Homo sapiens: one gene and its partner. The protein of the gene in region 1 purifies or fractionates together with the protein of each later gene. This does not show direct contact. Each region holds a gene or a part of one and is shown in the gene's direction. Other genes may lie near its edges.

Region 1 (4,246 bases):
AGAAATATATGCAGATGTGGCATATGTCCAATTAAAGAAACCTGATACATACTGTTAGAACTGTTCAGCATCTTGGTTTCAATTTTTATATAAAATTTAGGATTACGAAATATACCAAAGCAGCATAGAAAATGAGCCCCCCATCCCCCTGCCCCATGGCCCACCACACAGGTTAACAGATGTTAACATTTTGCATTGGCGCCTTGTTTATGGCTGTCTTGGAGATAGCCCCGTGTCGCCTCCAGCTGCCTCTTTGTGGTAACTGCCCAAGAGTCGTTATTGATTATATGCATGCACCCAATATTCATTATTCGACCTGTTCCAGCTCTTGGATATTTAGCAAATTACTGATTTTCTGCTTATATAATTGTGGTGGAGGTAATACCCCATTTTGTATAAATTTTGCCCGGGTGGGTGGGCTTCGAGGCAAAGGAGAACGAGGCTCGGCTTTGGATTAGGTTCACACTCCTGCTCCGCCACACTTCTAGTTGTGTGATCTGGAGTAAGGGAAGGCCCTCACTTTCCCCATCTGTAAAATGAACTGGCTATAGTAATCCCTCCGTCTCATAGCTGCTGAGAGGAATAGAAAACTAAAGTATAGACGCTTCACTGGGCTTAGTTCCCAGTTTCCCTGGCTAGGGAGGTCTCCGCGGGGACACCAAACTCTCAAGCCCAGCCTAGCAGCTAGAGCGCCCAGCGCCTGCACTTTTGCTTTAAACTACAACCTGTTCCCCGCCTCTCTTCCTCCACCGCCACGCTGGGGGCGTGGCGGTTAAATGTCTCTGTGACGTCAGCGCGAGCAGGGCCAATCTCCTTGCCCGGCAGACGTTAGCTCGTTTGCATGGGTGGTCCGCCATTGGTCTGTTGGGCAATCTGGGCCGTACCAGCTTTTTAAAGACGCCGTGTAGTATAAACAAGGAGAAGTGGGGCGGCCGGGCCATGATGTCAGCGCGGTGCTGCAGCTCTTGGGGGTGACGTCATCTCCGGGAAGGTGGCCGGCCCAGGGTTGTTAGAGCCAGCATAACCACTTGGGCCGCTCTCGCCCCGTCAGAGGTCAGACCCATTGCACTTCAGTATCTCAGGCGGCACCCTGTCCCCGAGGAGGGGACCATGACACAGTAAGTCCGTACTGCCGGTTCTCCTGGCGGGACCCATTTCTTCGGCAGGGAAACTGAGCCTCAGAGGCGCGAGTAGTTAGCGAGTTTGCATAGCAAGTTCGAGTTGCAGCCGATCGGTTTTGCCCACCCTGGGGTCTCCCCATCTTTATGTCAGGATATGCGGCCCCGCCCCTTGCTTTTGACTATGGCTGCGGTCCCTTTAAGTGCGAAGGTGGGGGCGAGGAGGAGGTTAAAAAAATTCAAGATGGTGGCCCACTAGTCACGTGCGTGGTCGCGGCGAGTGATTGGCTCTCAGGGCGGAGCTCCCGGCGCGGGGCGGGGCCCCTGCGGGCTTGCAGCGGGCTACTGTTTGCCGGAGCCTCCCGGCGCGCCCCCGCGAGCCCCCTCCCGTCTGGCGCGCGACCCCGCCGCTTCGAATGTTGTGAATCAAATGTGGGGTTTGTTACATTCCGCTGCCGCCGCGGACAGTTCTTAAAGGGCCAGCCGCCGGCTGCCGCGCAGACCCAGCTGCGTCCTGCGCCGCCTCCCGCTCCCTGAGGGCCTGGGCCGAGAGAGACTGATCGCGCGTGGGCCTCGCGAGGCAGACGCCGTCGGGCGGACAACAAAGAGAGAGGCCCCGGAAGGAGCCGGGCTGCCCCCGGACCCGGGGGTGGGGAGGGGAGCACATTGTTCCGCAGGGCGGGAGCTCTTAAAGGATCCAGACAGGCACCCCCCCCCTCCCCCGCCCCCTGCCCAGTTTGGCCGTCCTAGATCGGGAACAAAGGAGTCAACGTGTGGCCGGGCGGCCAAAGGTGAGTCGGTGCCAGGGCCCCCAACTTCCTATTCCCCCACCCATGGACCTTCTGTTCCCCTCCCCTGGGAATGGGGGCCGTGATCTAGGTGGCTCCGTAGGGGTTAATCACGGGCGGTCCAGACTGCGGGCAGCGAGACCCCAGGGATCAGGAACCCCCCCCAAGGCCCCCCGTGGCCGGGCCGTATCTCCCCTCTCCTGCAGCTGAGCGCTGCGGTTGGAGAGGAAGGAGCCGCCCCCCTCCCCCTGCGGCCGCCACTTCCTTTGTTGTTGCTTTTGTCTCACGCCGAGCACATGGTCCGGGATCCTCGGCTCTTAAAGTCGCAGCGTTCTGGCCCCTGCGCTGCAGTCTCGCCTCCCGCCCCCGGTGTCCCTCCGAGAGCGGCGCAAAAGAGTAGGAAGCGGACGAGGGAGGCCCCTCTCGGGGCTGTGTCCGCGCCTCGGCCCCCCAGCACTATGCCTGGGGAGGGGTGGCTGGGTAAGCTTCCCAGAGCCCCACAGCGTGCACTTGGCCCGCGTTGGGGAGCCCCCCCTTCCCCAGGACCCTGGTTTCCTCCCCCACTAGTGTGACCACCTGGTTTCTTCTGGACTCTTCTGGTTTTATTTGGGCGCTGTGGGAAGGAAAGATTTCCACCCCCATTTTATAGCTGTGCCAACTGAGGCGCTCAGAAGCAAAGGGATTTCCTTGACCAAGGTCACTAGGGAGTCTTCTCTCCTAGTCTGGTGGTCCGGCCCTCAGCGGCCTCCAGGCACCACACGTTGGGAAGCTCTGCTTGCGCTGGGCAGAGCCTGCTTGTTTCGGGTGGGGTGTGGGGAAGTAGGAAGGGGGGCTTCTCTTCCTGGCTGAGTCTGCTCATGCCCCCAGGGTCTGACTTTGTTTTTATCTGCAAAAGGGAGTGTCTCTTCCTGCAAACAGATCCCTGGGGCTCTTAGACCAAGGTCAGGGTAGGTGCTTGGGGCACTGGACTTAAGGGGTTGGCCGGCTCTCATGGGTGGGTGTGGGGGGTTATGTTAACTGCAAAATGCATTGCGTGCCTGGGGCGGACGGGGCTCAGCGACGGGACTCTCAAGACCCGTTCACACAGAGCTCCGTGATAGGACAGCATGGAGATGTGGACGGGCAGAGCAGTTGTTAGGGGAGGCCACCTGGCCACCCTTGCTATTTGACCTTGAGCAAGTTGCTAGCTCCAACTCTGGGCCTTGCTTGCTTCTCTGTACTACAGAGCTAAAGATGGGTGCCTGAAAGAGAGTGCTCTCCCAGCCTCCTGTATGGCTTGGAGACTCGGGATTAGGTGATTTCCTCCAGCTACTGATGCCACAGGAGTTATGGCTTGGGGGAGTTTGGGCCTAGGAGGCCAACTAGGACCAATTCCGTTCTCTCTGGTCTTGTGGCCTAGAGTAACTTACTTCCTTTCTCTCGGCTCCAGTTTTCTCAGCCATGAAGTGGGTGTAACCCTTCTACGCCACCCCTGTTCCTGGCAGGGCTTAAAGAACCAGGATCCACTCTTACCAGCTGAGGTATTCCCCTAGAGTGGCATATCTGCCTGCTGCCCCGGAAGTGGCACCCTTCAAGCTCTGCTTGAGGTTGGAAATGGAGGTCAGCGTGTCGTATTCGCTAATAATGATCATTCACACCCAAGCTAAGTTCAAACTTTACAAGTTGCTTCTGCTGTTGCCTTGGAGCAGTCCTTGATGGGAAACTGGGAGGTAGTTATTGGGCTGTTCCCATTTTACAGATGAAGATACTGAGGCTCGGGAGGGGAAGCCCTTGCCCACGGTCTGTAGGCAAGAATCTCGCTAGAAGTCACTGTCATGTGTGAGTCTGTGAGGGCTGACATTCTTACCCACGGCTGGAGGCCCTTCTGTCTCCTGGCTTGCTTTCACAGCTCCTTACCACCTTCCCTGCCCTGGGGAGTGGGTGCCTTTGTAGGGGGCTGGCCACAGAGCAGACACCCACAGGCCTGGGCCTCTGCAGGAGTGCCTTGGGCCTGGCACTACTCAGCCATCTGCAAGACATCCTGACATAAGAGGAGCAGTCAAGGCTGCTGGCTTGGTGGCTAGTCATGGGTGCTTTATGGCCAGACTGCTTAGGTCATGCACCTGCGCACTCACGATTCCAGCTGACTGGCCTTGGACCTCACCTCTCTGAGCCTTGGTGTCCTGACCTGCCAGTGTTGCTGGGAGGACTCACCAAGTTGGCGCCGGGGAAACAGCATGGTTATTATGGTGACTGTTCTGCACCAGCAGAACTATGGGCTCCCCAGCTTTCTGAGGTTAGCTAGGGTAGAGATTCCCAAATCTAGCTGTGCTGTGACAACTTCTGGGGAATTTGTTAAAC
Region 2 (3,500 bases), 4.5 Mb from region 1:
AGAGTGGGGGTGTCCAATCTTTTGCCTTCCCTGGGCCATATTGAAAGAAGAACTAACACTAACGATAACTAATGAATGAAAAAAAATCACAAAAAATCTTATAATGTTTTAAGAAAGTTTAAGAATTTGTGTTGGACCGTATTCAAAGCCGTCCTGAGTCTCATGCAGCCCACAGGCTGTGGCTTGGACAAACTTTTGCTAGACGAAGTACTATTCAAGCACGAAATAATAAAGTGGAAAAACATAAAATTATTACCTGGAGTAAAATGTAGGTGTCATGGAAAAGATATGTCACAACATCAGTGCACTAAAGGGCAAATCTCTGAAATAAAAACTACAAAATCTCCTCACTGTGTCACACCATGTCCTTCAGAATATGGCAGAAGTCTACTTAAAAAAAAGAAGCACAAATAAATGTGCTTCAGCGGAGAATATATATTCCTTTCTTGTATCCATAAAACATTTACAAGATGTAATCATCTATTTGAAGGAAATAAATTTTCCCAAATTCGATATTTTATGGCCACTTACTCCCCTCCTGGGTCATTAAAAAAGGTTTTTAGCATAGAAGATGCAAAGGGGGTGGTGTGAGTGTTCATTAAGCAGATGGGCAGAGAGGAGAGCACGTGGAGATAGATTCTCCTCCAGTCAGGGAGTCTGCATTTGGAAGGTGCCTCTCAGGCCCCTGAATAACTCATCCCCAGAGACAGGGTTTCCTCATGTTGAATGTGGGAATATTGATAGCACATACCTCACCTCATCTCACATGAGATGTGTGTGAGAACCGAGTGAAGTAACTGACATGGAAGCATTCTCGCAAGTGTAAGATGTGCAAATGCAAGTCATCAGGTTTAGAAAGAAGACTGATGGATCCCCCACCCCATACCCCACACTTCTCCACCCACCAGAGCCCTGAGAAGGACTCAAGTGGATTTTGCTCAGTTGTCTGTTATGTTTCCTCCTATAGGACAGTGGCAAGTCACTGGACCGGGCAAGTTTGTCCAGGCCTTGGTGGGGGAGGACGCCGTGTTCTCCTGCTCCCTCTTTCCTGAGACCAGTGCAGAGGCTATGGAAGTGCGGTTCTTCAGGAATCAGTTCCATGCTGTGGTCCACCTCTACAGAGATGGGGAAGACTGGGAATCTAAGCAGATGCCACAGTATCGAGGGAGAACTGAGTTTGTGAAGGACTCCATTGCAGGGGGGCGTGTCTCTCTAAGGCTAAAAAACATCACTCCCTCGGACATCGGCCTGTATGGGTGCTGGTTCAGTTCCCAGATTTACGATGAGGAGGCCACCTGGGAGCTGCGGGTGGCAGGTCAGTTGTTTATTTATGACTGAGTTGTCTTGTAAAGTCATGCTACCATTATCAGCTCTTAAAAGTATTTCAGATAATGAAATAAAACAGACTTTCCAGATTCTGACATGATGTAAAAAGGCTTCGGTGGGGATCACTGACCTGAGGTTTCTGGAGATGAGCCTGGCCCTGCCATCACACAGGTGGGATCATGATGCAGAAGACAGCCACCTGCACCTGCCACCACCTGACAGGATACAGAGGAAAGCCACTCCCAATGTTGGTGAAATGAGAGTGATAATGCCTGTCATATTTCAATTTCTTTTATTTTCTTCTTTTTTCTTGACTTCTTGTGTGTTACTAAACTTTTTTTAGGATTCCATCACAACTTATTGTTAGTCTTTTTTTAGTATAACATTTTGTAGTGTTTTCTTAGGTGCTGCTTTAGGTGTTATGATATTCATATATAATTTATCACAATCTACTATATCAACATTTTACCACTTTGAAGTGTGGAAACTTCATTTTCATTCAGAGCCCTTCAAACTCCACAATTTAAAAATAACATTGCCTTGAGTATTTCTTCTATATACATAAGCACTATATCAGATAGTGACTTAATTTCTGTTTAAACCATCATATATAATTTTCATTTTTATTTTTTATTTTTTATTTTTCTTTGAGACAGTCTTGTCCCGTCACCCAGGCTGGAGTGCAGTGGTGTGATCTCAGCTCACTGCAACCTCCACCTCCTGGATTCAAGTGACTCTTGTACCTCAGCCTCCTGAGTAGCTCAGATTACAGGCATGCGCCACCACACCCAGCTAATTTTTTTTTGTATTTTTAGTAGAGATGGGGTTCTGCCATGTTGGCCAGCTGGTCTCAAACTCCTGGCCTCAAATGATCCCCTGCCTTGGGCTCCCAAAATGCTGGGATTACAGGTGTGAGCCACCACACCCAGCACATATGTGATTGTTAAACACTAATAAAATGGAAAATCTATTGTAGTTTTCCTTATTCTTCTTTTTCTATTGCTTTTCTTCTTTCCTAATATTCCAAGATTCTTTCTTTTATCATTTCCTTTCTGTTTGAAGAATTTCCTCCAGCCATCCTTTTAGGATAGGTCTGCTAGTGACAAATTCTCTTAGTTTTTGTTTATCTGAGAATAAATATGCAAAAGATTTCCTCTTTATTTGTGAATAATGGTTTTGCCAGATATAGAATTTCTGAGTTTCTTGATGGTTATTTTCTTTCAGCAGTTGAAAAATGTGCTACTTCTTTCTGGCCTTGAAGATTTCTCACGAAAAATCTGCTGTCATTGGTGTTTTCTTTATTTTCAGAAATTTAATTATGATCTATCAAGGCATGGGTTTCTTTACATTTCTCCTATTTGGTGTGCTCTCAGCTTCTTGAATCTGTAGTTTCATGACTTTCACCTCATTTGATTAGATCAGCCATCATTTCTTTAAATACTCTTTCAGCTCTCTCTCTTTCTCCTCTCCTTCTGGGACTATGATGATATAAATGTTGATATTTTGTTATTGTCTCATAGGTCCTTGAGGATCTGTTTTTCCCTTTAAAAAAATATTTTCCTCTCTTTTCATGCTGGTTAAGTTTCATTGTTGTATCCTGGAGTTCAATAATTTTTTTTTTTTTTTTATGAGATGGAGTCTCGCTCTGTCGCCCAGGCTGGATAGAGTGCAGTGGTGCAATCTCGCTCACTGCAAGCTCTGCCTTCCGGGTTCACGCCATTCTCCTGCCTCAGCCTCCGGAGTAGCTGGAACTACAGGCACCTGCCACCACGCCCGGCTAATTTTTTTTGTATTTTTAGTAGAGACGGGGTTTCACCGTGTTAACCAGGATGGTCTTGATCTCCTGATCTCATGATCCACCCGCCTTGGCCTCCCAAAGTGCTGGGATTACAGGCCTGAGCCACCATGCCAGGCCAATAATTTTATTTTCTGTCATCTCCACTCTAGCATTGAAGCTACCCAGTTAGTTTTTGTTTTTGCATTTTTTTCTGTTATATTACTTCTGATTTGTTTTTTATAACATCTATGGTTTTTGTTTTTTAAATTTTTTGAGAGAATTCATAATTGCTTTTTGAAACATTTTAATAATAGCTATTCATGTTGGTCTTGGCAATCACATGATTGTCTATTTTCATTCAAGTTGATATTTAATTGGTTCTTGGTATGATGGGTAA

What was found. Proteins that work in one complex are often made in the same cells at the same time.
Region 2: the proteins of RNF44 (region 1) and BTNL3 purify together in Homo sapiens (affinity purification with mass spectrometry; one large-scale study listed by BioGRID and IntAct). This does not show direct contact.

The regions. Positions count from the first base shown.
Region 1 is NC_000005.10:176,534,603-176,538,848, reverse strand, and holds the start of RNF44 (RING finger protein 44), read left to right. Parts: upstream 1-1,446; 5' UTR 1,447-1,909; intron 1,910-2,200; exon of another isoform or gene 2,201-2,386; intron 2,387-4,246.
Region 2 is NC_000005.10:180,991,846-180,995,345, forward strand, and holds part of BTNL3 (butyrophilin-like protein 3 precursor), read left to right. Parts: intron 1-967; coding exon 968-1,315; intron 1,316-3,500.